7 linked regions of the Homo sapiens genome follow. The protein of the gene in region 2 interacts with the protein of the main gene of each other region in a pairwise test. Each region holds a gene or a part of one and is shown on either strand. Other genes may lie near its edges.

The links.
Region 1: the proteins of PPIE (region 2) and PRC1 interact in a two-hybrid assay, tested with the Homo sapiens proteins (one large-scale study listed by BioGRID).
Region 3: the proteins of PPIE (region 2) and GTSE1 interact in a two-hybrid assay, tested with the Homo sapiens proteins (one large-scale study listed by BioGRID).
Region 4: the proteins of PPIE (region 2) and SLU7 interact in a two-hybrid assay, tested with the Homo sapiens proteins (one large-scale study listed by BioGRID).
Region 5: the proteins of PPIE (region 2) and PHYHIP interact in a two-hybrid assay, tested with the Homo sapiens proteins (one large-scale study listed by BioGRID and IntAct).
Region 6: the proteins of PPIE (region 2) and TRIM55 interact in a two-hybrid assay, tested with the Homo sapiens proteins (one large-scale study listed by BioGRID and IntAct).
Region 7: the proteins of PPIE (region 2) and AQR interact in binary tests that used the Homo sapiens proteins (3 or more experiments, as listed by UniProt).

The regions. Positions count from the first base shown.
Region 1 is NC_000015.10:90,984,536-90,988,035, reverse strand, and holds part of PRC1 (protein regulator of cytokinesis 1), read left to right. Parts: exon of another isoform or gene 1-406; intron 407-3,210; coding exon 3,211-3,343; intron 3,344-3,500. UniProt on the Homo sapiens protein: Key regulator of cytokinesis that cross-links antiparrallel microtubules at an average distance of 35 nM. Essential for controlling the spatiotemporal formation of the midzone and successful cytokinesis.
Region 2 is NC_000001.11:39,741,882-39,745,381, forward strand, and holds part of PPIE (peptidyl-prolyl cis-trans isomerase E), read left to right. Parts: intron 1-13; coding exon 14-40; intron 41-46; exon of another isoform or gene 47-150; intron 151-1,334; coding exon 1,335-1,416; intron 1,417-1,942; coding exon 1,943-2,043; intron 2,044-3,493; coding exon 3,494-3,500. UniProt on the Homo sapiens protein: Involved in pre-mRNA splicing as component of the spliceosome. Combines RNA-binding and PPIase activities.
Region 3 is NC_000022.11:46,303,370-46,306,869, forward strand, and holds part of GTSE1 (G2 and S phase-expressed protein 1), read left to right. Parts: intron 1-3,500. UniProt on the Homo sapiens protein: May be involved in p53-induced cell cycle arrest in G2/M phase by interfering with microtubule rearrangements that are required to enter mitosis. Overexpression delays G2/M phase progression.
Region 4 is NC_000005.10:160,405,582-160,409,081, reverse strand, and holds part of SLU7 (pre-mRNA-splicing factor SLU7), read left to right. Parts: intron 1-384; coding exon 385-432; intron 433-621; coding exon 622-753; intron 754-1,013; coding exon 1,014-1,111; intron 1,112-1,268; coding exon 1,269-1,336; intron 1,337-1,466; coding exon 1,467-1,606; intron 1,607-2,452; coding exon 2,453-2,614; intron 2,615-3,500. UniProt on the Homo sapiens protein: Required for pre-mRNA splicing as component of the spliceosome. Participates in the second catalytic step of pre-mRNA splicing, when the free hydroxyl group of exon I attacks the 3'-splice site to generate spliced mRNA and the excised lariat intron.
Region 5 is NC_000008.11:22,222,100-22,225,599, reverse strand, and holds part of PHYHIP (phytanoyl-CoA hydroxylase-interacting protein), read left to right. Parts: intron 1-383; exon of another isoform or gene 384-1,158; intron 1,159-1,256; coding exon 1,257-1,374; intron 1,375-3,500. UniProt on the Homo sapiens protein: Its interaction with PHYH suggests a role in the development of the central system.
Region 6 is NC_000008.11:66,154,629-66,158,128, reverse strand, and holds part of TRIM55 (tripartite motif-containing protein 55), read right to left. Parts: intron 2,507-3,500; coding exon of another isoform or gene 2,419-2,506; intron 1-2,418. UniProt on the Homo sapiens protein: E3 ubiquitin ligase that plays an important role in regulating cardiac development and contractility, muscle growth, metabolism, and fiber-type differentiation.
Region 7 is NC_000015.10:34,959,743-34,963,242, forward strand, and holds part of AQR (RNA helicase aquarius), read right to left. Parts: intron 1,073-3,500; coding exon 1,032-1,072; intron 1-1,031.

The sequences.
Region 1 (3,500 bases), on a different chromosome or scaffold from region 2:
AAAGTGAAGGGAGTACCGTAAATTCTTTTAAACGTTTGTCAGTATTTGGGTATTGGTATGGCCATCTGGTATAGGCAACAGGTATTTGTGTAGAAATGTTTCTTCAACAAGGACGGGCAACCTCTAAACTAGGATTTCGTGGCTGGAGATATTTTGGATGTGAATGTATTAACAGCTTTGGAGAGACACATTGTTAGAGATCCAGGCTGGTGACTTGTAGAACCACCGAAAGCTCTGAGACAGAAAGGGGCTAATGAAAGTCTCTAGTTGCAGTTGGGTGTGGATGGCACACAAAGACCTTAAGTGTTTAGGTGATTTGCTGCAGGCTTCTCGGCCGACTGGAAGCAGAGCACATCTAGATTGTAGTTTCTCTGGTGCCAGGGCAGTCTTAGTTGTCCTGTTATACCTAAGAAAAGGGAGAAAAATTTCTATTCTTTAAATGTTCTGTAAAGCAGACTAATTGTGATAATTTTTAAAGTAAGCTGTTCTTAAAAGATAAGATACAGAAGCCAGTTAAATTTGTATTTTAGATAAATAATTTTTTGTTAAAATAAGCTTTTGGTAATTGAAGAATAACATACATTCAGAAACGTACAGAAATCAAGTGTAAACTCAGTGAATTGTTCACAGTTGATGCACCTGTGTAAGCAGCAACCCAGAAGCCCTCTACCAGTCACTGCCTCCCCTGAGCCAAAAGAACTACTATCCTGACTTCTGAAAGCATTGATTAGTTTGGCCTGGTTTTGTTTTTGCTTTTTTTGTTTTCGTTTTTGAGATAGGGTGTTGCTTTGGAGTGCAGTGATCATAGCTCACTGCAGCCTCATCCTCTCAGGCTCAAGCAATCCTCCCACCTCAGCCTCCTGAGTAGCTGGGACTATAGGCATACGTCACCGTGCCCGGCTAATTTTTTTTTTTTTTTTTTTTTTAAGACGCAGAGTCTCACTATGTTGCCCAGAATGATCTGAAACTCCTGGGCTCAAACAGTTTTCCTGCCTCGGCCTTGCAAGGTGCTAGGAATACAGGCGTGAACTACCGTGCCTGGCCAGTTTTGCCTGTTTTTGAACTCTCTGTCAACGGAATCACATAGTGATACACATTTGCATATCTAGTGGCATTTGCTCAGCCTAAAGTGTTTTTTTTTTCCTTCCTCTTCCCCTTACAACTATTTTTTAGTTGTTTATTTTACTTCATTAAAAAAATGAAAAGATTTGAGGTATAATTCATACACAGTAAAACAGACTCGCTTTACAGGTAGTTTCAATTGTATACTGTTGTATAATCGCCATCAAGATCTAGAACTATTTCATCACCCCAAAAAAGTAAAATAAATAAATAAATAAAATAGAAATATAATAATTTGAGCTTTATCCATATCATGTGTAGTGTGTTCATTTTCTTTTTTGACAGTTTCGCTCTGTCGCCCAAGCTGGAGTACAGTGGTACAATCTTGGCTCACTGCAACCTTGGCTCACTGCAAACCCTGCCTCCCGGGTTCAAGCGATTCTCCTGCCTCAGCCGCCCCAGTAGCTGGGATTACAGGCGCACCACCACACCCAGCTAATTTTTTGTGTTTTTAGTAGAGACAGGGTTTCCCCATGTTGGCCAGGCTGGTCTCCTGACCTCAAGTGATCTGCTCCCCTCGGCCTCCCAGAGTCCTGGAATTACAGGTGTGAGCCACTGCACCCAGCCAGTTTGTTCATTTTCATTGCTGCATTAGTGCATTGTAGGAATGTACTATTCATTCTGTTGATAGACATCTAGGCTGTTTCTGTTTCCCTGCTATTATGAGTAGTGCTTCTCTAACCATTCTCATATATGTCTTTGGTGAACGTATGTGTTCATTTCTGCTAGGTATGTATGTAGAGGTAGAACTGCTGGGTTCAGCTTTAGTAGATAGACTGCCAACAGTTTTTAAAATAGTTGTACCAATTTACACCATGCCAGCAGCATATGAAAGTTCTCACTTTTCTATATACTCACCAACACTTAATGCTGTCTTTTTAACTTTAGCCATTCTTTGAGCTGCTAGTTGTAATTTAAGAAGAATAGGCCAGGCATGGTAGCTCACGCCTGTAATCCCAGCAATTTGGGAGGCCGAGGCAGGTGGATCACTTGAGGTCAGGAGTTCGAGACCAGCGTGGCCAACGTAGTGAAACCCCATCTCAATGGCTTTTTAACTTTAGCCATTCTTTGAGCTGCCGGTTGCAATTTAAGAATACTAGGCCCGGGCGCAGTGGCTCATGCCTGTAATCCCAGCACTTTGGGAGGCCGAGGTGGGTGGATTTTTGTGTTTTTGTAAAAATACAAAAATTAGCTGGGTGTGGTGGCACACACCTGTAATCTGAGCTACTTGGGAGGCTGAAGCAGGAGAATCACTTGAACCTGGGAGGCGGAGGTTGCAGTGAGCTGAGATCTCACCACTGCACTCCAGCCAGGGCAACGGAGCGAGACTCTGTCTCAAAAAAAAAAAAGAAAATAAAAATAAATAAATTAATTAAATAAAATGGCAAGGCACAGTGGCTCACATATGTAATCCTAGCACTTTGGGAGGCCGAGGAGGGCGGATCACTTGAGGCCGGGAATTCAAGACCCACCTGGCTAACATGGCGAAACCCCAACTCTACTAAAAATACAAAAATTAGCTGGGTGTGGTAGCACCTGCCTATAGTCCCACCTACTCGGGAGGCTGAGTCAGGAGAATCATTTGAACGCAAAAGGTAGAGGTTGCAGTGAGCCAAAATTGCACCACTGCACTCCAGCCTGGGCGACAGAGCAAGATGCTGTCTCAAAAAAAAAGAAAAAACAAAAAAAAAACACCAAAAAAATAGTAATAAATTGCCAAACATTTTGCAGGAGTTTCTCACCAGCAAGTTCTTGTGTTAGTTTATTTTACCAACATCTTTTGTCCGGTTTTTCTTTAGTAAAAGTATTTATAATTCTGTATTATACTTCCATAGGTAGATCATTGTTGAAAGTCCAGAAGGTTGAGCTTCCATGATGTAATATGATATGAAATCTTGTATTGCTAGTGGCATTTGGTAGGAAAAGGGATGGGGAGTGGTTAAAGGTGAATTAAGCTGAATGCTTGTTTTCAATTTGTTTTTTTCTCGAGGCCACTGAGAAGCTAGTCTTTTTAGTTCTCGAAAATAGTGCTTTTAGTCCAGAGGCTGTGACTGATGTAACTAACAGGCCTTAGTTTTTGGTTTTCAGTGAGGTGCTGGCGGAGGAGTCCATAGTATGTCTGCAGAAAGCCCTAAATCACCTTCGGGAAATATGGGAGCTAATTGGGATTCCAGAGGACCAGCGGTTACAAAGAACTGAGGTGGTAAAGAAGCATATCAAGGTGGGTTGAATAGTACTGGTCTCTGCATTGGACCAGGGTAAGGATGTTGGTGTCTCACCCGAGATAGCATACAGAAGGGACATGTGATCATCGGCATTAGGATAGCACAGGCTCTTCCTGTTTGGTTTGGTTTGGTTTTGAAGTCCCTTCTTGAAAT
Region 2 (3,500 bases):
CTTTCCTTGGCAGGATGCTGCAGCAGCTATCGACAACATGGTATGGCTGGGAATCTTAATTCTAACTAAAGTTGCTTTTTGGTGGTACAGAGGCTCCTTATTCATATATCAGTGTTCTGGACTTCCAAAGTTACAAGGTTGCATGGGGAGGTAAAAATTCTCACATGAAAATATTCACTGTGAATTGATCACTTATAAAATTAGTTCTTACTCAGACTCCTTCGCCATTTCAGAATAATGTAAGTCCTCATCATCCTTGTTGACCAGTCTCTCACTGGCTCTCCCATGTTTAGGATAATTTGCAGACACAGTGCAAATTGATTGCACGGTGTAACTGCATATTTTGCAAAATAGCAGGATTTCATGAAGTGTTAGACCAATTTACAATTGAGAAGAGAAATTTAATTATGGCAGGTGCAAATCACTGATACAAATGATTTGGATATTCTGGAAAGGTCCTTGGGAAAAATGATGATGCTCTTTAGTATTTGTGCCTTCCTTGAGATCCTTTTAGTTTTCATGTCTGATAAGAAGTGCAAAGATACCATACTGTTGATAGAATTTTGTTGGAAAAATAATACTTCAGTGCCTGTTACTTTTCTTTCTTTCTTTTTTTTTTTTTTTTTTTTTTTAACAATCTTGAACTCATGAGTTCAAGACTTCTCAGCTTCTCAAGTAGCTGGAATTACAGGCTCAAGCCAACAGGGCTACCTGGGCTACCTGTTACATTTCTTTCTACCAAGTTACATTTCTTTCTACCGATTAGTGCATAGTTAGTCCTGAATATTAATGGTAAGAAACTTGTTTTTATTATTTTTAGTTTCATCACAGTAATTTCCCAGTCAGCCTTTTAAAATTTTTCAATTTTACCACGAAATCTTCATCACCACTTCAAGTGGAGTCACCTTAAATGACCTTTCCTGGTACCGATTATCTTTGGATAATGAGATGTTGTTTTATTTGTTGTTCTGTTATCCATTCACCAAACATATTCATCAGCTGTCAGAGATCATTTTTCTTTCATTTCAAAGCTTATCTTGACTTTTGAAGGTGAACTCAAATACTGGGAAACTGCATTTATTTTTGTAATTTTGGAGTGTTCTGAACCCAGAGTTACTTTTGGTAATACAGGTCTTTGTGTGCTGCTATGAAAGAAAGGGGTGTGAGTTCCCTGAAACCCACAGGTGGCTTTGGGGTGGCTGCATAGCTTACTGGTAGAGGCCCAGGGATTAAGGGAGGACAAATCATGAGTGTGTCTCAGAAGTATATGGAAAGCTGGCTGGCCCTCTTTTAACCTAAGAGAGTTTAAGCAGCTGGATTTTCAATCTTTTCAGAATGAATCTGAGCTTTTTGGACGTACAATTCGTGTCAATTTGGCCAAACCAATGAGAATTAAGGAAGGCTCTTCCAGGCCAGGTGAGTAGGAGCAACTTCCAGATTCCCTGTGATGTTCTGCAGTTTGGCCTTAGTTGCATTTTTTGTCTCTATTTACTTGGAAGTAGATGCTAAATGCTGCTTCCTGGTAGATAGGAGTAGATGATGGTTCACATTGGGAAGGGCATGCACCACCTTTTTAGAGAAACAAGTGAGTTTGAGCTTCTCAGCAAAGCCAAAGTGATTGTTTCTGTTATGAGAGAAATTCCTGCCTGAGCTCATCTTTCCCAGTTTTCTTGATATTCCATTCCTGGGGTCTCCATCAAGGGCTGAAATCAGCAAAGGCTACACCTTTGCTTTCGGCATAGCTATTTTCCTTAGCCCTACTGAGAGCTGGACTTCAGGGCCTACATTCTGGATGGGAACTTTCCTTACCCCTGGGAGTTCTCAGTGGGGAATTGTCTGGCATACAGGCCACATAGCATCTTCCACTTTGCTGACCAAAGCAGCTACTTTTCAGTTCAAGCTGACAGCTTGAATGAACATTTGTTTGATTCTTTCCTTTCAGTTTGGTCAGATGATGACTGGTTGAAGAAGTTTTCTGGGAAGACGCTTGAAGAGAATAAAGAGGAAGAAGGGTCAGAGCCTCCCAAAGCAGAGACCCAGGAGGTGAGAATGAAGCTCCTGCTTCCAGAGCACAGGCCGGCGCTGTCCACAGGAGACTTTTTTTTTTAAGTTTTAATGGAAATTTGCCAATATGTATATCAAAGTGGAGGGAATGAATAATGAATTCTTAGTACTTTGGTAAAGTCAATATTGAGTTCTTAGTACTTTGGTAAAGTCAATATCGAGTGAATTCAAGGGCGAAACTTTGGGTCTCTTGTCCATGTTGTGTTCTATGTGATGAGTGTCTCAGCTCTGCTCAGGTATGGATTTGTGATTATCAACTGACAGGGAGGAAGCTGAGGTGCCCCTCTTCACCCCTCCTGATCAGTCCCCCTCCTTCACTGAAGAGTTTGCCACAAGGGTCGTGGTCTTCCTATTCCTGTGCTAATGGAGGGGAGACAGAATAGGGTAGTGTCCCTTCCTTCAACCTGTACATGGGTTCAGGGTTCTCCAGTCCTACGGGAACCTGCTGGGGCACTTCCCCCTGATTCTCAGCATAGTCTCTGACAGTTGCTTCCTGGGCGTCCCCTCCTCTGAGTACTTTGTGAATGTTGTCATTCTTCTGTATTTCTTTCTTGGCTCATGGTTTCTCTCTCTTCTCTCAGCTGAAACAGTAGCAGTCTATCTCTAGTTTTATGCAGCCTCTGTTATGCTGTTGATCTTCATGGTCTCTTTCTAGTCCTGAGCTTCAGATATTTCTGCCTGCAAGTCTCATGGGCAGCTTAAGTTTGCCTAAAATGGATTCTCCCGCTTCTCTAATCCTGTCTTCCTGTGTTCTCAATCTTGGCTAATTTGCCACCATTCATCCACACATTGACCCACGCCAGAAATTTGAATGCAAATCAGAACTCATAAAGTGGCCATCACAGTCAGTGGAGTCCCCCTGGATCATCCTGTATCCTCTGCTTAGTCTTACCTACTTGGAGCACAATGCAAGGCCCAACATCTTCCACTGTCTTCTGAGCACTTAGGCCTGAGCAAGAGGGCTGCCCCCTTGCTTCCATGTAGTTAGCCAGTGTATATGCAGGGCCAGGCACAGAGGGACGAGGTGGTACATGGATGGGTCTGCCTAACTAGAGGACAGTGGGTGGGCTGGAACTGGCATTTGAAGATACTGAGAGTTGTGGATCATGGACCAGAAAAGTGCTGTTCTGTGACTGTGAAGCAAGAGGAGGAAGCAGATGCATCTGAGGGCAAGCATGATGAGATAACACCCCCGTGTGTGAGGCTCAGGTTAGCCAGTGCTGAGACCTCCTGTCGCTGGGCATCCAGCTGGGTGCTACGGCCATGGCTCCTGCCTCCTGCAGCCCTATCAGGGCCCAAGGCCTTCCCCGTCAGCACTTGCTCCAGCCTACGCACTGGAGTTGTGTTCTGGGTGGGTGTGTAGAATACTCGCACTCCTACTTAGGGCGTCAGGGAGCTCTCTCTAACTAGCAATTTCTTCTGCACCTAGGGAGAGC
Region 3 (3,500 bases), on a different chromosome or scaffold from region 2:
AAAGCTGTTGATTGCTCTGTAATGATTTTGTCCTTAGCCATGTTCTTTTATCCTTTTACTACTTATAGTAGTTTCCAGTTGATCTTCTTGATTTGTTTCTCGTGTCTATAATCATGGCATCTGTGCAGTGTGATCATGTTACCTCCACATTCCTTCCTTTGCCTGACTGTGTTGCTTTATGTGTCCAGAACAGTGTTAAGAATTGTGCTTGGAGATGTCATTGCCACGTGCCTGGCTTTAATGGAATTGCTTCTGTGGTTTTTCATTAAGTCCGATACTGGGTTATGGGTTAATTTCCAAGTAAATGGTAGTCGTAGGTGTGCTATTCATGAGCATTTCTATGTGTTTGTCTTCTGGGCATGTAATAGAATTGTACTCCCTGTTCACTTGAAATTCAGTTGGCTCTGGTGACTCACTTGGCCAGTGAAATGGGAATGTTGTCGTGTGTGTCATTTCTGGGTGGAAATCTTCAAGAACCAGTGTGGAATTGGTTCTTTTCCTTCCTGCCATGGAGACGAGCGGTGTTCCTGATGGTGGAGGCTCCATCAGTTGGGGTCCTGGAGTGAGGAGGCCAGGGAGCAGGGCCCCAGCCTACCCCTCTGCAGACATATAGTTTGAGTGAGAAATATACCTTTGTGGTTTTTGGTTTGTTTTGAGACAGTGTCTCTTGCTCTATTGCCCAGGATGGAGTGCAGTGGCTTGATCATAGCTCACTGCAGCCGCAAGCTCCTGGGCTCAGCATCCTGAGTAGCTGGGACTACAGGTATATGGCACCATACCCCGCTCATTTTTTTTTTTCTTTTTGTAGAGCTGGGGTCTCGCTATGTTGCGAGGGCTGGCCTTGAACCCCTGGGCCTCAAGTGATCCTCCTTGGCCTCCCATAGTGCTGGGATTACAGGCACAGGCCACCATACCTGGCCTACCTTTGTTGTTTTAAGGGTTGTTACTTCAGCATGTTAGCCTATCCTAACTGGTAAGATCAATTTGTTCCTGTCTTTAGAAGGAATACTTCTGACGTTATCCCACTGAACCTAATGCTGGCTTTGGGTTGAGATGGGGATTTCCTTATATATCTATTACTTTTTATTAAGAGCCTCTAAAATCAAGAATGTATGTTGTATTTTATCATATGCCCGTTCAACATATGTGCAGACGATCATGGTTTTCTCTTTAGCTCTAGTAATAAAATGATTATATGAGTAGATTGTATGAAATGAAACCATCTCACAGTCATGAAATGCAGGGAGCTTGGTTGTGTTATGTTATTACCACTTTAATGTTTGCAGGATTCTTTTTGCTGGTATTCTTGTTAAAGAGTTTGATGTTAGGCCAGGTGTGGTAGCTCATACCTGTAATCCCAGCACTTTGGGAGGCCAAGGTAGGAGGAATGCTTGTTCCCAGCAGTTTGAGACCAGCCTGGGCAACATGAGGAGATCCCATCTCTACAAAAAATACAAATATTAGCCAGGGATGGTTGTGCGTGCCTGTAGTCCCAGCTACTCGGGAAGCCGAGACAGGAGGATCCCTCGAGTCCAGGAGTTCGAGGCTGCAGTGAGCTATGATTGTACCACTGTACTCCAGCCTGGGTGACAGAGCGAGACCCTGTCTCAAAAAAAGAAAAAGGATTATTATGCTGATGTAAGTAAGGCTGGTCTTTACTTTCTTTATTGATCACTTTCTAGGTTTTTTGGTAACATACTTACTTGCCTCGTGGAAGTAAGTTGGAAAGTTTTTTTTCTTTTAATCCTCTGGAGTGATGTAAATAGTATTGGAATTATTTGTTCTTTAATGTTTTGATACAATTATCCTATGAATCTAGTTGGGACGCTTTTTTGAAGAGGATAGCTCTTTAATAAATTTCACCAGTTATTTTATGATTATTGAAGTATTAAGATTTTCCCTGTCTTCTGGAGTCAGTTTTATAAATAAGTACATTTAGACAATTTAAATAAAAAATAGACTGGATGCGGTGGCTCACGCCTGTAATCCCAGCACTTTGGAAGGCCGAGATGGAGGGATCACGAGGTCAGGAGATCGAGACCATCCTGGCTAACATTGTGAAACCCCGTCTCTACTAGAAATACAAAAAATTAGCTGGGCGTGGTAGCACGTGCCTGTAATCCCAGCTACTCGGGAGGCTGAGGCAGGAAAATCGCTGGAACCTGGGAAGCAGAGGTTGTAGTGAGCCAAGATCACACCACTGCACTCCAGCCTGAGTGACAGAGTGAGACTCCATCTCAAAAAAATAAAAAGAATATACCAAGTGCAGTGGCTCACGCCTGTAATCCCAGCACTTTGGGAGGCTGAGGCAGGTGGAACACAAGGTCAGGAATTTGAGACCAGCCTGGCCAACATGGTGAAACCGCATCTCTACTAAAAATACGAAAATTAGCCCGGTGTGGTGGCGCGCGCCTGTAATCCCAGCTACTCAGGAGGCTGAGGCAGAAGAATCTCTTGAACCTGGGAGGCGGAGGTTGCAGTGAGCCAAGATCACCCCACTGCACTCCAGCCTGGGCAACAGAGTGAGACTCCATCTCAAAAAAAAAAGAATAAATAAAATTATATTTTCCTAGAAAATTATCTCTTTCAGCCAAGTTCTTAGGTTTATGTGCATGAAGTTGACAGATGTGCTTATGGATCTTTTCATTCCCTCTCTGTGTGGTTATTTCTCTTTTCTTTCTTTTGTGCATTTGTTCTGACTTCTCCTTGATTAGGTAATTAAGAATAATTGATTAATCAGGACCAAATTAGGATATTAGTATATTTTCAAATTTTATGATTTTTGAGAAGCATGCTGTGTTGTTATTTTTATTTATTTATTTATTTTTTTGAGACAGAGTCTCACTCAGTCACCCAGGCTGGAGTGCAGTGGCGCGATCTCTGCTCACTGCAAGCTCCGCCTCCCAGGTTCACGCCATTCTCCTGCCTCAGCCTCCCGAGTAGCTGGGACTACAGGCACCTGCCACCACGCCCGGCTAATTTTTTGCATTTTTTGTAGAGACAGGGTTTCACCATGTTAGCCAGGATGGTCTTGATCTCCTGACCTCGTGATCCGCCCGCCTCGGCCTCCCAAAGTGCTGGGATTACAGGCGTGAGCCATTGCGCCCAGCCTGTTTTGTTTTGTTTTCTGAGACAGAGTCTTGCTGTGTCACCCAGGCTGGAGTGCAGTGGCGCAATCTTGGTTCATTGCAACATCTACCTCCGAGGTTCAAGCAATTCTCCTGCCTCAGCCTCCCCAGTAGCTGGGATTACAGGTGCACACCACCACGCTCGGCTAATTTTTTTATTCTTTATTTTTGGTAGAGATGGGATTTTGCCACGTTGGCCAGGCTGATCTCGAACTCCTGACCACAAATCATCTGCCTGCCTCAGCCTCCCAAAGTGCTGGGATTACAGGTGTGAGCCACCTTGCCCGGCCTTCATTGTTTATTAAGATAAAAACATTTATGGGAGAGCTTTATAAGCTTTACAGTATTGAGCAAATACTGTATTTCAGTGCA
Region 4 (3,500 bases), on a different chromosome or scaffold from region 2:
TAATCTTTCTGTTACCATTTTGTGGTTATAATCTTAATTAAAATTCTCTTGAAATTTGCTGGCTTTATAGACAGTGTAATAAAATTATTTACAATGGCACTCTTGTATTCAGAATTTTTGCGCTCATTATAACTGAGAAGTGTGAGAGTTTGTTCAGTTAGAATTAAGTTTTATTATCTTAATACTTATTTATAAGTTACATATTATATATTATATAATAAATATTTATTATATATAATATAAATATAATATATAATAAAATATATTTTATTATATAAATATATTATTTATAATAAGATAATAATACTTTATTATCTTAATAATAAAGTTAATTGGATTAAGTGGAATGAGATTATGAATGATTTTTCTTCTTTCATGATGCAGAATTCTCCAAAACACCAGTGGGGAGAAGAGGAACCAAATTCTCAGATGGTAATACATATTTGCTGTCTCTGAGTATATGTTAAATTTTTAAATTTCTGATGGCTAATAATAAATAACACTAATAATAGCTTTTAAAGAACACAAGTAAATAAGGGTTTGGTTAAAGGGAAAGGGGAAAAAAAAGAACTACATGCTGCTTTCTTTTCTTCTTACTTTTCCTTCCTCTCCCTCTTTTAGGAAAAAGATCATAATAGTGAAGATGAGGATGAAGATAAATATGCAGATGATATTGACATGCCTGGACAGAATTTTGACTCCAAGAGACGAATTACTGTCCGGAATCTCAGGATTCGAGAAGATATTGCAAAAGTAAGTCTTGTCAGCTTAACATACATATTTGAAAAATACTTGTCTTCCCAGCATAAATTTTATCGACTCTGGGTAGCATATGGATAATATAGTCAGAGTCATTCTAAGATAAGGTTTCATTCTGTTTTTTCTCTTCACCTGAACCCCAGAAATGTATACACACATTTATTTAATTGATCATGTTCAACTCCTCCAACTAGTCTGCTGAAATCTTTTTGCTGTGAGTAAACATTAATTCTTTAAATATTTTTTTCTTCTAGTATTTGAGGAATTTAGATCCAAATTCTGCCTACTATGATCCAAAAACTAGAGCAATGAGAGAGAATCCTTATGCCAATGCAGGAAAGAATCCAGATGAGTAAGTATCAAGTTAAATGTACAGATTTTAAGATGAGAGAAAGTTAATTGTTTTCTGACCTGACCATAGATGGTGTTCATTTTAATTCAGATTCAGTTTTACGAATTAATTTTCCTTAAATCAATCTCTGAAACATTTTCTTTATTTGTATTTACAGAGTGAGTTATGCTGGAGATAACTTTGTTAGGTACACAGGAGATACCATTTCAATGGCTCAGACACAGTGTAAGTGTTTCCTCTATGTCAAGCCATTTTATATCAGCTCATAAGACGTTTGGGATTGTTTAAAGCTTGTTTTCAAGAAGCATACAGTAATGCAGCTGCCAACTCACTAAGATGTTTTGAATTACTCTAGTGTTTGCATGGGAAGCCTATGACAAGGGATCTGAAGTGCATCTACAGGCAGATCCTACAAAGCTAGAGCTGTTGTATAAGTCCTTCAAAGTCAAAAAAGAAGATTTCAAAGAACAGCAGAAAGAAAGCATCCTGGAAAAGGTAATTTTGACCAAAATGCTAAAGAAGAACTTCTGTTAAAGAGAAGTTACTAGTTAATAAGCGTTAGTTTTACATTTGGAAAATAATGCAAAGAGAGCCCTCTTAATCCATGAAGAATAGTCCTTTTCTTCCTTTCTCTTAGTCAGATGGTAATTTTGTATGAGCTTTTGCAGCAAAACAAGCTACCTCAAATCTTAATAGCTTAAAATAAACATTTATTGTTTCTCACAGTTGGCCAAGTCTCCTGGTCTGGGCTTGCTCAGCTGAGGTTAGATGATGAACTAAGATGGCCTCACTCTTGTGTTTAGCAGTTAACAGGCTAATTGTCCTAAGGGGACCTCTTCTGGGACAGCTCATCTCCACCCCATGTGGTCTTTCATCCTCTAGTAGGGTAGCACAGCTTTTTAAAATGGCATTCTCAGAGTTCTAGAGAGTGGCAGCAAAAAGTGTGCTGTGGTACATAAGTGCCTTTGCTTGCATCACATTTGCCAACTTTCATTGGTCAAAGCAAATAACATGGTCAGGCCCAGATTCAAGGGACAGAGAAAGACTTCGTCTCTTGATGGGAAGAAAAGCAAAGCCCTGTGGCAAAAGGGCATGTATAGAAAGATAAGAGGAATTTATGGCCATCTTGTAACTTACTGTACTCAACAGATGAATAGCAACTGAGACATCTTCTATTTGCCTCAGAAAAAATTTGTGGCTTTTTTTTTCCTACTGTGCTTTCTATAACAAAACCCAGTAAAGAATGTTCCCTTTCTTTCTGATTAGAAATAAATGTTTTCTGGAAATTTAAATGCAAATCAGGTTGTAAAATGTATTGAATAATGTCCAATGTCCTTTTAGTATGGTGGCCAAGAACATTTGGATGCCCCTCCAGCTGAATTGCTTTTAGCCCAGACTGAAGACTATGTGGAGTACTCAAGACATGGGACAGTCATCAAAGGACAGGAGCGGGCTGTTGCCTGCTCTAAGTATGAGGAGGATGTGAAGATCCACAATCACACAGTATGTGCTAAACTGGAACAATTTTGTGTCCTTGTTGGTTTTGCTCTGTATTGCATTTTTCCACTACAACTTTATTAGCTAACCATTTGTATTCTCTATGCTTTAAAAAAAAAAAAAAATTTTAACTGTTTCATGGAATTTTTTCAAAAATAGAAAAATTTTGAAGGAATACTATGTTCATCTATATACCCATCATCTAAATTCTGAAATTTTTAACATATTGCCTTATATGCTTTGTCTAGTTGTATGTGTGCATATGCACAGTTTTACATATATATGTAAAATACACATATATACACACATATAGTTTATGTATATATTTATTTGACTGAAACATTTGGAAATTATGTATATCATGACATTTTATCCATAAACGCTGTATCACATATCTCCTTAAAATGAGGATTTTCTTCTATATAACCACATCGACATTATTGCACTTCAGAAAATTAACATTATATCACCTAATATCTAGTCATTAATCACATTTTCCAAAATATACAGAAAAATGCCTTTAACACCTATTTTTTGTTTTAGTCAGAATTCGTTTCAAATTTCTTTTGATCGTTATGCGGTTATTATGTCTCTTTTCTAGAGTGTATCTCTTCATTTTCATGACGGTGACCATTTAACAGATTAGGCCAATTAGTTTGTAAATTGTCTCATATTCTGTATTGACTGGTTCCTAGTAGTGTTATATAACTTGTTTCTCTATCCCTGTATGTTTTATAAATAGGAATTTAGGTCTAACGGCTTGATTGGATATAAGTTAAATATTTTGACAAGAATATTTAATAAGTAATGTAGTATATTCATATTGCATTGTAAACATCATAAAGCATATATTGTCCTTTGCTGTTCTCTTGAAGTAACCAAACTACAATTG
Region 5 (3,500 bases), on a different chromosome or scaffold from region 2:
TGATCTTGAACTCCTGACCTCAGGTGATCTGCCTGCCTTGGCCTCCCAAAGTGCTGCGATTACAGGCATAAGCCACCATCCCTGGCCTTTTTCATTTTTATTTTTTGAGACAGGGTCTTGCTCTGTTGCCCAGGTTGGAATGCAGTGGCATGATCATGGCTCACTGCAGCCTCAGCAACCTCCTCCCCACGAGCCCAAGCCATCCTCCCTCCTCAGCTTCCTGGCCTCCTGAGTAGCTGGAACTACAGGCACATGCCACCATTCCTGGCTAATTTTTGATATTTTTTTGTAGAGATGGAGTTTTTCCATGTTGGTCAGGCTAGTCTCAAACTCCTGGGCTCAAGTGATCCCAAAGTGCTGGGATCACAGGCGTGAACCACTGCTGCTGGTTGAGTGGTGTTTTTTCTTAGCTCTGCTGCAGAACCCCACTCTCTGGAGGCCTCTTGCTCCTGGTGGGGAAAGCTTCTTGGTTTACCCCTGAGACCTCCATGTGCAGTGGGCATTTAATTCAAATTGGAGATCTGGCTGCAATCCAGTCCACACTCCTCTCTCCAAACCAAGCACCCTGGCCAGGGATGCAGCCACAAAGAGGGAAGGGCATCTTCTAATTTGTACCAAGGAGCTGTATGTGCCAGCAGCAGCCTTGCTGGGGCCCCAGGGTTCAATGTTGCTATCCTGTTTCCAGCCTTCCCTGTTTCTCCTGAGATGCTCAAGCTGAGAGCCATTGCTCCAGACCCAGGACTGCCTAAACATTGCCTGGGCTCAGTTCTCCCTAGACCCTCACGAGCCGTCACCTGTAATTACAGCTGGCTTCCATGGGGGTGGTGTGGGCAGCCTCCTATCTACTGTATTTGAGAGACTTTCCCAAAAGGACCTCAAGCCCTCCCGTCTCAAGTCTTCCTTTTTCCCAGGGGTCCTCTTTTCACATGAGGATGGCCTGGGATCACAGCCCCTGAGGACCCTGGCAGGATAACTGGGCAGCCCTCTGCCTTTTTCTGACCCGGAGAGCCCGGAGCCTCTGGCAATGTGGTTGCAGAGGTGATGACGACAGACAGTATGCAGCGCTCTGTGTTTCCAGCAGAGGCCAGCTGGCCTGTTCCCATCTGAGTTTAAGGTTCTGCGACTGTCTAGTCTCCCCTGCTGCTCTGGCGGACAGAGGTTGGCCGGCACACACAGTGTGGGGTGGGGTGGGGACAGGAGGTGTTTGTGCTCCTCAGCTGGCCCTCGGCTCACCTACCGCATCTGGGATCTTGCAGATTATGCCAAGGAGCACCTGGCTCAGCTTCAGGAGAAAGCTGAGCAGATCGCAGGCCGCATGCTCCGCTTCTCCGTCTTCTACCGCAACCATCACAAGGAGTACTTCCAGCATGCCAGGTATGGGCGCGGGCTCCCGGCTGGACCCGCCGGGCCTCTCCTCCCTCCCAGCCCTTCCTGCTCCTGTCCTGGCTGTCTGAGGTCACCCCCACCCTCGTGGCTGCCAGTCCCTCCTCTAGGGTTGACATGTCCTGACGTCACCAGGCTGGCTCTGAAGAGACTGCTACTTTGGGGATTGGGCTCAGGGAAGATCAAGGGCTCTGGGGACAGGGCCTTCTGCAAGAGTGTTGTACTAATGAGCCTGGGAGAATGAGGTCTGGGTTTGCTCCCACTCTGGGACAGTTCCTTTCACAGGGGTCTACCACCACAGGTCTCTCCGATTCAGGCCCTGGGGCCAAAGGGAAGGTGGCAGGGAGTGCACAAAATGAGTGTTCTGATCACAAAGGGTTCGAGGAAGCACCCAGCTCGTCGGTTTTCAAACTGGGTGCTCCCTCCAGGGAGACATGTCAGTGAACCCCTTAGAATGCTGCCATGGGGTTGGGGGGACCAGAGGTTGAGGCTTGGTGGGCCCCACACCTGACCTCCAGTCAGAGTAGCCTCAATTTTATTTGCCTGTGACCCTTCCACGTATAATTTCTTTTGGGGATAAAAAGAGAGTTGCTGCAGTCCAAAAGTGTTTGAAAATTGGTGATCTGATCCAACACCCTCAGCCTACAGAAGAGGAGCCTGAGGCCCAGAGGGAAGCACTTGTTCATTCGAGCCAGGGAGTCACTTGTTACTGAGGACAGCCAGGACCAGGCAATGTGAGGCAGGACCAGGAGTACCCACCATCCCCGGGCCTGCTGGCAAGTGCTCCAAGGCCGCATCCTTCTGAGGCTCAGCCAGGGCAAGCAGCTGCTCTGCCTTTTTTTTTTTTTTTTTTTTTGAGATGGCGTCTTCTCTGTCACCCAGGCTGGAGTGCAGGGGCGCGATCTCTGCTCACTACAACCTCTGCCTTCTGGGTTAAAATGATTCTCCTGCCTCAGCCTCTTGAGTAGCTGGGACCACAGGTATGCGCCACCATGCCCGGCTAATTTTTGTATTTTTAATGAAGTGGGGTTTCACCATGTTGGCCAGGCTGGTCTCAAACTCCTGACCTCAGGTGATCCGCCCACCTCGGCCTCCCAAGGTCCTGGGATTACAGGCATGAGCCACCACGCCCGGCCTCTGTCTGTCTTTATCCTTACAGTCAGGGCAGTTTTAACCTCAGGGCAGTGAGGACCTTGGGAGTCTTTGGGGTTTGTATTAAAGAAGCAAGGCCTGCTTGGTGGCTCAAGCCTGTAATCCTACCACGTTGGGAGGCCGAGATGGGATCTCTTGACCCCAAGAGTTCAAGACTAGCCTGAGCAACATAGTGAGACCCCAGCCTCTGCAAAAAATTTAAAGAATTAGCCGGGTGTGGATTGCTTGAGCCCAGGAGTTCGAGCTTGCAGTGAGCTGTGATTGCACCACTGCACTCCAGCCTGGAAAGCAAGTCAGTGGCCCAGTTTGGGCTCCTTTATCAGCGAGAGTGGGAGAGATAGAGAGCACTCATGGGTGCCAGGCACCTTACTTGGTGCCAGGATGTAAAGATAAAGGCACAGTTCACTCTTTTGAGAACCTCAGAATCCAGTCAGAGAGACAGTATGGAAAGATTTCATGTAAAAAGTACGTGTAATTGTTGAGCACAGTTCAGTGTCCTGGCCAGGTGAAGTGGCTCACACCTGCAATCCTAGCACTTTGGGAGGCTGAAGCAGGAGGATCACTTGAGGCCAGGAGTTCAAGTCCAGCCTGGGCAACATAGTGAGAAGATTGGGTGTCCTGCACATAGTAGGAAGCCAAAAATTTGTCAAGTGCAGGTGTCTGCTGTTCCTGGGAGGTTTTAGAGGGGAGCAGACGCTTGACTGAAGCTTGAAGGCTAATTAGAAGTTTGCCAAGCCAGACGGAGGAAGGTGGAGAGGGCAGTCAGTGCAGCAGAGGGAAGAGTCCTGCATAGGGGTCACGGAGGCAGGAGACTGTGTGTGCAGGGGGTGGGTAAGTGGATGGGGTGGCAGGAGGTGGGGAGTGGCAAGGAGACCACAGAGATCAGATCATGAGCCGCCGTGTTTTTCACACACACCCCATCAAAGGGTTTCAAGCTGGGGAGTGACAGCTTCATATCTCTTCTC
Region 6 (3,500 bases), on a different chromosome or scaffold from region 2:
CTTACCCTGAGGCAGCTGCTGTGTCCAGCTCAAGTATCAGCCAGAGCAGCTGCTGAGTTAATCCACCAAATAGAGATCCTGTAGAAGCCCAAGGAAACTGGGGCCTTTGATGAGTTCAAATTCACCACAAGGCTGAATCCAAACCTTGCTTTTTCTTAGAGAATGCCCATGGGGGAGCTACAGCACTCTTCTGATCTAACAAAAAGTAGTGGTCCTGTCCATCACTCGTAGAGGAAGCTGATGTTTGGTTTTTGCCATGACCGGTTTTTTTTGCCTGTGTACTTGGGTGAAGAGAGAAGGTAAGGTATGTGATAAAGCAGAAATTGTTCAGCACCAGAAACCACAGGCAGTAAAATCGAGGGCATGTTTCACTGTGTACATGGATGTAAGGAAAGCACCAGGAAATAGAGCATTTGCTTCTAAAAGGTTTGCAGTTCAGCTGTTGTGGGCTGAATGTAGTTTACAGATCAGCAAGTGAGCCTGAGATGCTTCTGAGTTTTAAAGGCAGCATTACTCTGACACGGGACCACCTAGTAAAGAGAGATAAGACCACCACTGAATCAAAGAGAACTCTTACCACATCCTAAATACTCAAGGTAAGCCTAGTGATGAAATGTGAAATTCTAGCACTCTAACCTTGAACTGGACAAATATGAATCTGGTAAACTGGGTTCTGAAGTGGTGAAGGTGAATCAGACCTGCAAAATATTCTCAGAGGCCGGGAATTTGCTACTATAGTGAGGTCTCTATCAACCTGCCCATATCCCATTTCTGGGATCAAAGAGTAGTACTCCATCATGAACAGGTGTCCTTCTCTATGTGAAAGGCCCTTCCTCAAACACCAAGAACTATACAGTAAGGTTTTTTGCAATACTGGATGTCAACGCCCTCCCCACACCTGCTCCACCTGCCCCACCCTCCTCTCCCTAGGCAGGCACGTGGATGTCAGCATACATGACATGGGCTCAGTGGATCACAGCCTTGAAGCATGACACTCCCTCTGCAGCCTCAGAGAAGCAATACAAGACATATATGTAGTGACAAAGCCCTAAACCCGAATTCTCAGAATGTAAACAGAACCCTTCAGACAATTATTCAGATCCACAATTAGGTCCTGGTTCCAATAAAGCATGGAGTTTTCTCTCTCACCATTCACCCCTCTGAGTCCATGGCCAATACATCCTCCCACTCCTTTTTACCACAGATAATGTCTGAAGGAGTTGGGCAGCTGAGCAGACTGTAAGGACACTCAGGACACTCTAGGGTGCACAGGTTTCCAGCTGACTATTGGACATTGTGGGCAGGTCCTGCTCACACACAGTTCCAGACACGGCAGAGACCAATGGAGACGCCACCGCCATTGCTGAGCAGATGGCTAATGAGGCAGAAAGTCTATGAAGGGAGCTTCCAGAAGAGTCAGTGTCAACCCAGGGAAAAGTCAGTGAGCCAGAAATAGCCGAGGCTTTTCAGCACCATTGACCCTGAACTGCCTTTGAGCTACAGGAACAAGGAGTTGGGTCTCAGGCCCAGCAGGGTCATTTACACAAAAGTACATGGAAGTTGGAATCTTTAAATATTATTAATTAAACTGAGAACTTTCAAAAGGGTATTAAAGGATTATGATGTCAGTCCTCAAGCAAACCTCATAACAGCAATCAAGCAAAGGCTTGGCTATGAGAACGGTGACTCGGAAATAATATAAATGGACTGCTTGATGACTTTATGGCTTAGTTCTTGGTTCTAATTCCTGATAGCTGGTAAGTGCACATTGATCCTCTGGCTGTTAATTCATTCAGGTCTCACGTGGCTGCAATCCCCCAGATATTTCTTCAGTCAGGGCATCTTTCTCTCAGGGACCTCCTCTCCCAGGAGAAACTCTGTAGAGTCTGAGGGTTCAAAGAGAACCCACCTGCTCACCTGCATAGGAACTGCCTAGAACATCATCCCACGAGGAGTCACTTGGCCACCTCCTGGGCATCTCTGGTGTAAGCAGATGAAATGCTTGTACTTAATCTATGGAAACCTGCATTTTCCTGCAGGAGTCCTTTGCCGCTCCTTTCTCTACGAGCAGTAAGTCCTCACCGCATTATGGACACTTGAAACTGGCCTCCCCTAATGACCATTCTGGAGGGTTTGCTCCTCCTGGATTACTGAATAATTGCCCATGGAGTTACTGTTCTCAGTCAAGGTTCCCCTCCATGCAGGAATAGATAATGGAGCAATTCTCCTCAGAAAGAGGTCTTGAGGCGATTGCATTGTGTGAGCTTGAGGCCTCCAGTATAATCTGAGAACAATGTTCTTTTGGGAGGACTGAGCCTCAAGATTTGGGGAGAAATTAATCTCTGGGCCTATAGAAGAGGAACATTATGGAAGAAACTATGTGAGATGTTAGTCAAGGGAAAAGAAAATATTTCCTACCCATTAAAGTAAAAATCAAGCACTGAATCTGACTCCAGATGTAGTGAAGAATAAGAAAAGCCAAAAGCGCTAGGCAGATTACTAACTCCTGTGAGAAAACAAGAAGAAAGCTTCACTGATATTATCACAAATAATTATTTTCAACATTATTTCAATGGACTTTTCATTTTGGCTTGAGCCCTACTACGTGCTCTTCATGGGGTAGTGCACTACTGTTTTCAGAAAACAGCCCCTCCGCACACAGCTTCTACTACCATGTATAAGAATTGCCACACATTTTCTAGAAATAATCAGTCTACTGCATCTTTTACCTAAAAACCACCTCATAAGATTTCTTCCCACCAAACATTTATTTTTGTCATTTTATCTGTGAAAATAAACATCCAACCCCAAAGCATGTTACTTTTAATTTTCCAAAATCATTTCCTTTTACTACCTCATGGAATTGAAGTCTCTTGGGCAGATACAATCAAAATAATAAGTCATTGTCTGATTTTTGAGAACATGTTGTTTGTGGTTCATAATCAATCACCTGATGACCCAGGAGCATGGAACTGGAGAGTGCTTTCTGGCAGCTTCTTGCCTGGGCAACACTCACACCCTACACATCATTTAAGAATGCTCATGAGTATGGAGTCACCATGAACATTCTTCCTTGTGAAGAAATTGTAAAAGATTTCTTCTGTGGACTCTTCAAGACATGCAAACATCTAACCAAGTGTTAGGGGGAAGACATGGACTTCAAACTCATCATATAAAGAAAGAGTCTCTTGAAAAAAATCTCTGTGGAGGAGCACCTGTGCTTTTCCACTCCCAGGAGTACATGCTTAGGAAGCACAGGTTTAATCAAGCCAAGACTGTCTCTGTCTAGCTGTAGCCAGCACACTCCAAGAATCCATGAATCAGAGGTTATTCTCCAGAACAGACTTAAAACTCAAGTGTGCTCCTTGGGGGTTGCTGGGAATGACACAAAAGCAGGGGATTAGTCTTTAGAAGCCCAAGGAGGACACAGGGAAGGCTGAGCAAGGGCAAGTGGCCGTTGGTAAGGAGGACTGGGGACACAGCCAGTCACTGCAGATGAA
Region 7 (3,500 bases), on a different chromosome or scaffold from region 2:
GGACAATTCCGCTCCCAACTTTCCACACAAGCCAAATCTATGACATCTTGAAGCTGACTACTACAATGCTCACCTAATTAATTCCCTGCCTCTTGCTCCCTCCAAATCCAAATTCTTGCTGGGTGCAGTGGCTAATGCCTGTAATCCCAGCACTTTGGAAGGCCAAGGCAGGTGGATCACTTGGGGCCAGCAGTTTGAGACTAGCCTGGCCAACATGGTGAAACCCTGTCTCAAAAAAAGAAAAAAAACAAACAAACCCAAATTCTCTTTTTCAAATACCACTGTGCTTACAACTCTTCTTACTTCCTACTGTTTTCCAAATAAAGAACAAAATCCTGAAGATGGCCTTTGACCCATTTAGTCAAATATCCTTTTAAAATACTCACTGGACATACATGTCTGCAGGTGTATATACAAAAAGATGCCTAAGACACGCTGTTAAATTTTTTAAAAGAAGCATGATGAAAAATAGCATGTAGAGTACAAACCCTTTTGTGTTTGAAAAAACATGTGAAGGCGTGGGGAATAGAACAGATGTATATGAACCATATACATGAACCAGGGATTGGGGGCAGAAAAGATGATTTATTGAAACTCACCCCTTACAGCATATTGCTCAAAAATAATTTTTATCACTTCTGTGTTTATTATTATACATTTTATACATTACATATGTATACTATATTATTGTAAATTTAATAATGTCTTACTTTCATAACTTTTTAAGAATATTTTTAAAAGGTGAATCAGAAATAATACTAGTAATAAAATCTTCATGTTTACTTTTTCTCAAATTCCATCTAAATCCAAATAAACCCTATGGGATTTGATACCTCTAATCTGAGCCAAAAGTTAGAAGGCAAAAAATAATTTATGACTCTTCAGCACCTAAAGTTTTTCTAGTCACCATTGCCCTGACGACCAGTTTGAAACAGAAAAAGGGTTCAAGTTATGATCACATTTAGAAGTTCAGCCAAGATCCAACTTGGTCCACCCCAATCACATTGTATAAAATTTAAATTCATTCCTACCTTGATTTGACAATCTCTTTTTCATATATATCTTCAATAACCTGTTATAAAAATATAAAAATGTTTAATATCTCAACAACTTTTTTCAACCCTAAATTGACAGTTTTTAATGAGTGAGATTATATAAAATAAGTTGGTTTAGGAAAGCCATCAAATATTACTGCTATTGAAATAATGAGATATTTAAAATAATCCCATTATATTCCTCGAAATATGAAATTAACAGAAAGCAAAGTAGAAAAAACAAATAATAAAACAGAGCCCTAGATTCATTAAAATGATGTGCTTATAAAGATTTTTAGGGAAAATAAAAATTCACAAGATCAGGATTTTTTTTAAACTTAAAGTGTATAAATGTTATGAGACTCCATTTGAGAGTCATAACTGTGTGCCTGCAAAACCCAGAGAGAAAATAATTTAAAAGTGTGAAGACATAACAGACACAAATTCTAATTGTTACATCTCTTTATCCAAATGAATATGATAGAGCTTCAGAATTTCCATTCATTTGAGTGAGGGTGGGCAGAATGGTGTACTACTTAAGAATTCAGACTCTGGCCAGGCACGGTGGCTCACGACTGTAATCCGAGCACTTTGGGAGGCCGAAGAGGGTGGATCATGAGGTCAAGAGATCAAGACCATCCTGGCCAACATGGTGAAACCCTGTCTCTACTAAAAATACAAATATTAGCTGGGCGTGGTGGCGCACACCTGCAGTCCCAACTACTTCGGAGGCTGAGGCAGGAGAATCACTTGAACCCGGGAGGCGGAGGTTGCAGTGAGTCAAGATCGCGCCACTGCACTCCATCCAGCCTGGTGATAGAGCGAGACTCCATCTCAAAAAAAAAAAAAAAAAAAAAAGAATTCTGACTCTGGAACTGTACATCTCAAAAAAAAAAAAAAAAGAAAAAAAGAACTCAGACTCTCGAATTGGAAGACTGGTTCAAAACATCTGCCTTCACTACTGATGGCTGGAACTCTTAGGCAAGTGCCTGACCTCTCCAAGCCTCAGTTTCCTTACCCACAAAACAGATCTAATAACACAAACTACCACACAGGGTTACTGAAAATAAAATAAGACAGGGCATATAAACAATTAGTACAAATACTGGCATACAGTGAGCCTTCACTAACAGTTATCAATAGCAGCAGTAGTAGTGCTAGCATTAATAATAGTAAAAAAAAATACTACTGTAAAATTATGAAGTGCTTTAACATGCTATAATATTATTGTATGGTAACTATAATGTCTTTTTTTTTTTTTTTTGAGATGGGGTCTCACTCTGTCACCTAGGGTGGAGTGTAGCAGTGCAATCACAGCTCATTGCAACGTCTGCCTTCCAGTCTCAACTATCCTCCAGCCGCAGCCTCCCAAATAGCTGGGACCACAGGCATACACCACCATACCCACCTAATTTTTTGTATTTTTGGTAGAGATGGGGTTTCACCATGTTGCCCAGGTTGGTCTTGAACTCCTGAAGTCAAGTGACCTACCGCCTCAGCCTCCCAAAGTGCTGGGATTACAGTCATGAGCCATGGTACCTAGCCTATAATATCTTTTAATTGCTCCAAGTACATTTGTGAAATAAGTATTTGTGAGTGGTAAAGGGAGGGAGGCGATAAGGAAAACAAGTCTTGTTCAATCTAGATGAAATGCTCTGTTATTGTTTTCATCAAATTTCAAATTAAATAATAAAATAAAGATTACTGGTTGGCCGGGTGTGGTGGCTCAAGCCTGTAATCCCACCACTTTGGGAGGCCAAGGTGGGCAGATCACCTGAAGTTAGGAGTTTGAGACCAGCCTGGCCAACATGGTAAAACCCCGTCTCTACTAAAAATACAAAAATTAGCAGGGCGTGGTGGCGTGCATCTGTAATCCCAGCTACTCAGGAGGCTGAGGCAGAAGAATCGCTTGAACCCAGGAGGTGGAGGCTGCAGTGAGCCAGAATCGTGCCATTACACTCCAAACTGGGTGACAAGAGCGAGACTCCACCTCCAAAAAAAAAAAATAAATAAAAGATTACTGGCAAAAACAAATATATATTCGTAAGAATTTAAGTTCAAATAAAGTAAGAAATTTTGGGTAAAAAGTTCAGTTTTACCAACAGTGCCTAAAGCATCACCATTAAATTTATAATGGCAAAGCTTAAGAGTCTTCATTACTTGTTGAATGGTATGCAGTGTCAACATCTATTTCATTTAAAGACCTCACTCTCTTTAAGGGACAGGGTCTCATTCTGTTGCCCAGGCTGGAGTGCAGTGGCCTGATTACAGCTCACTGCAGCCTCAAGCTCCTGGGCTCAGTCAGTCATCCTCCCGCTTCAGCTTCCAGAGCAATTGATACTACATGTGTGAGCCACTGCACAAGCCAATTTTTTTAATTTTTTTGTAAAGGCGAGATCTCACTACTGTCCAGTCTAGTCTCAAACTCCTGGCTTCAGGTGATCTTCCCTCTTTGATCTCCCAAAG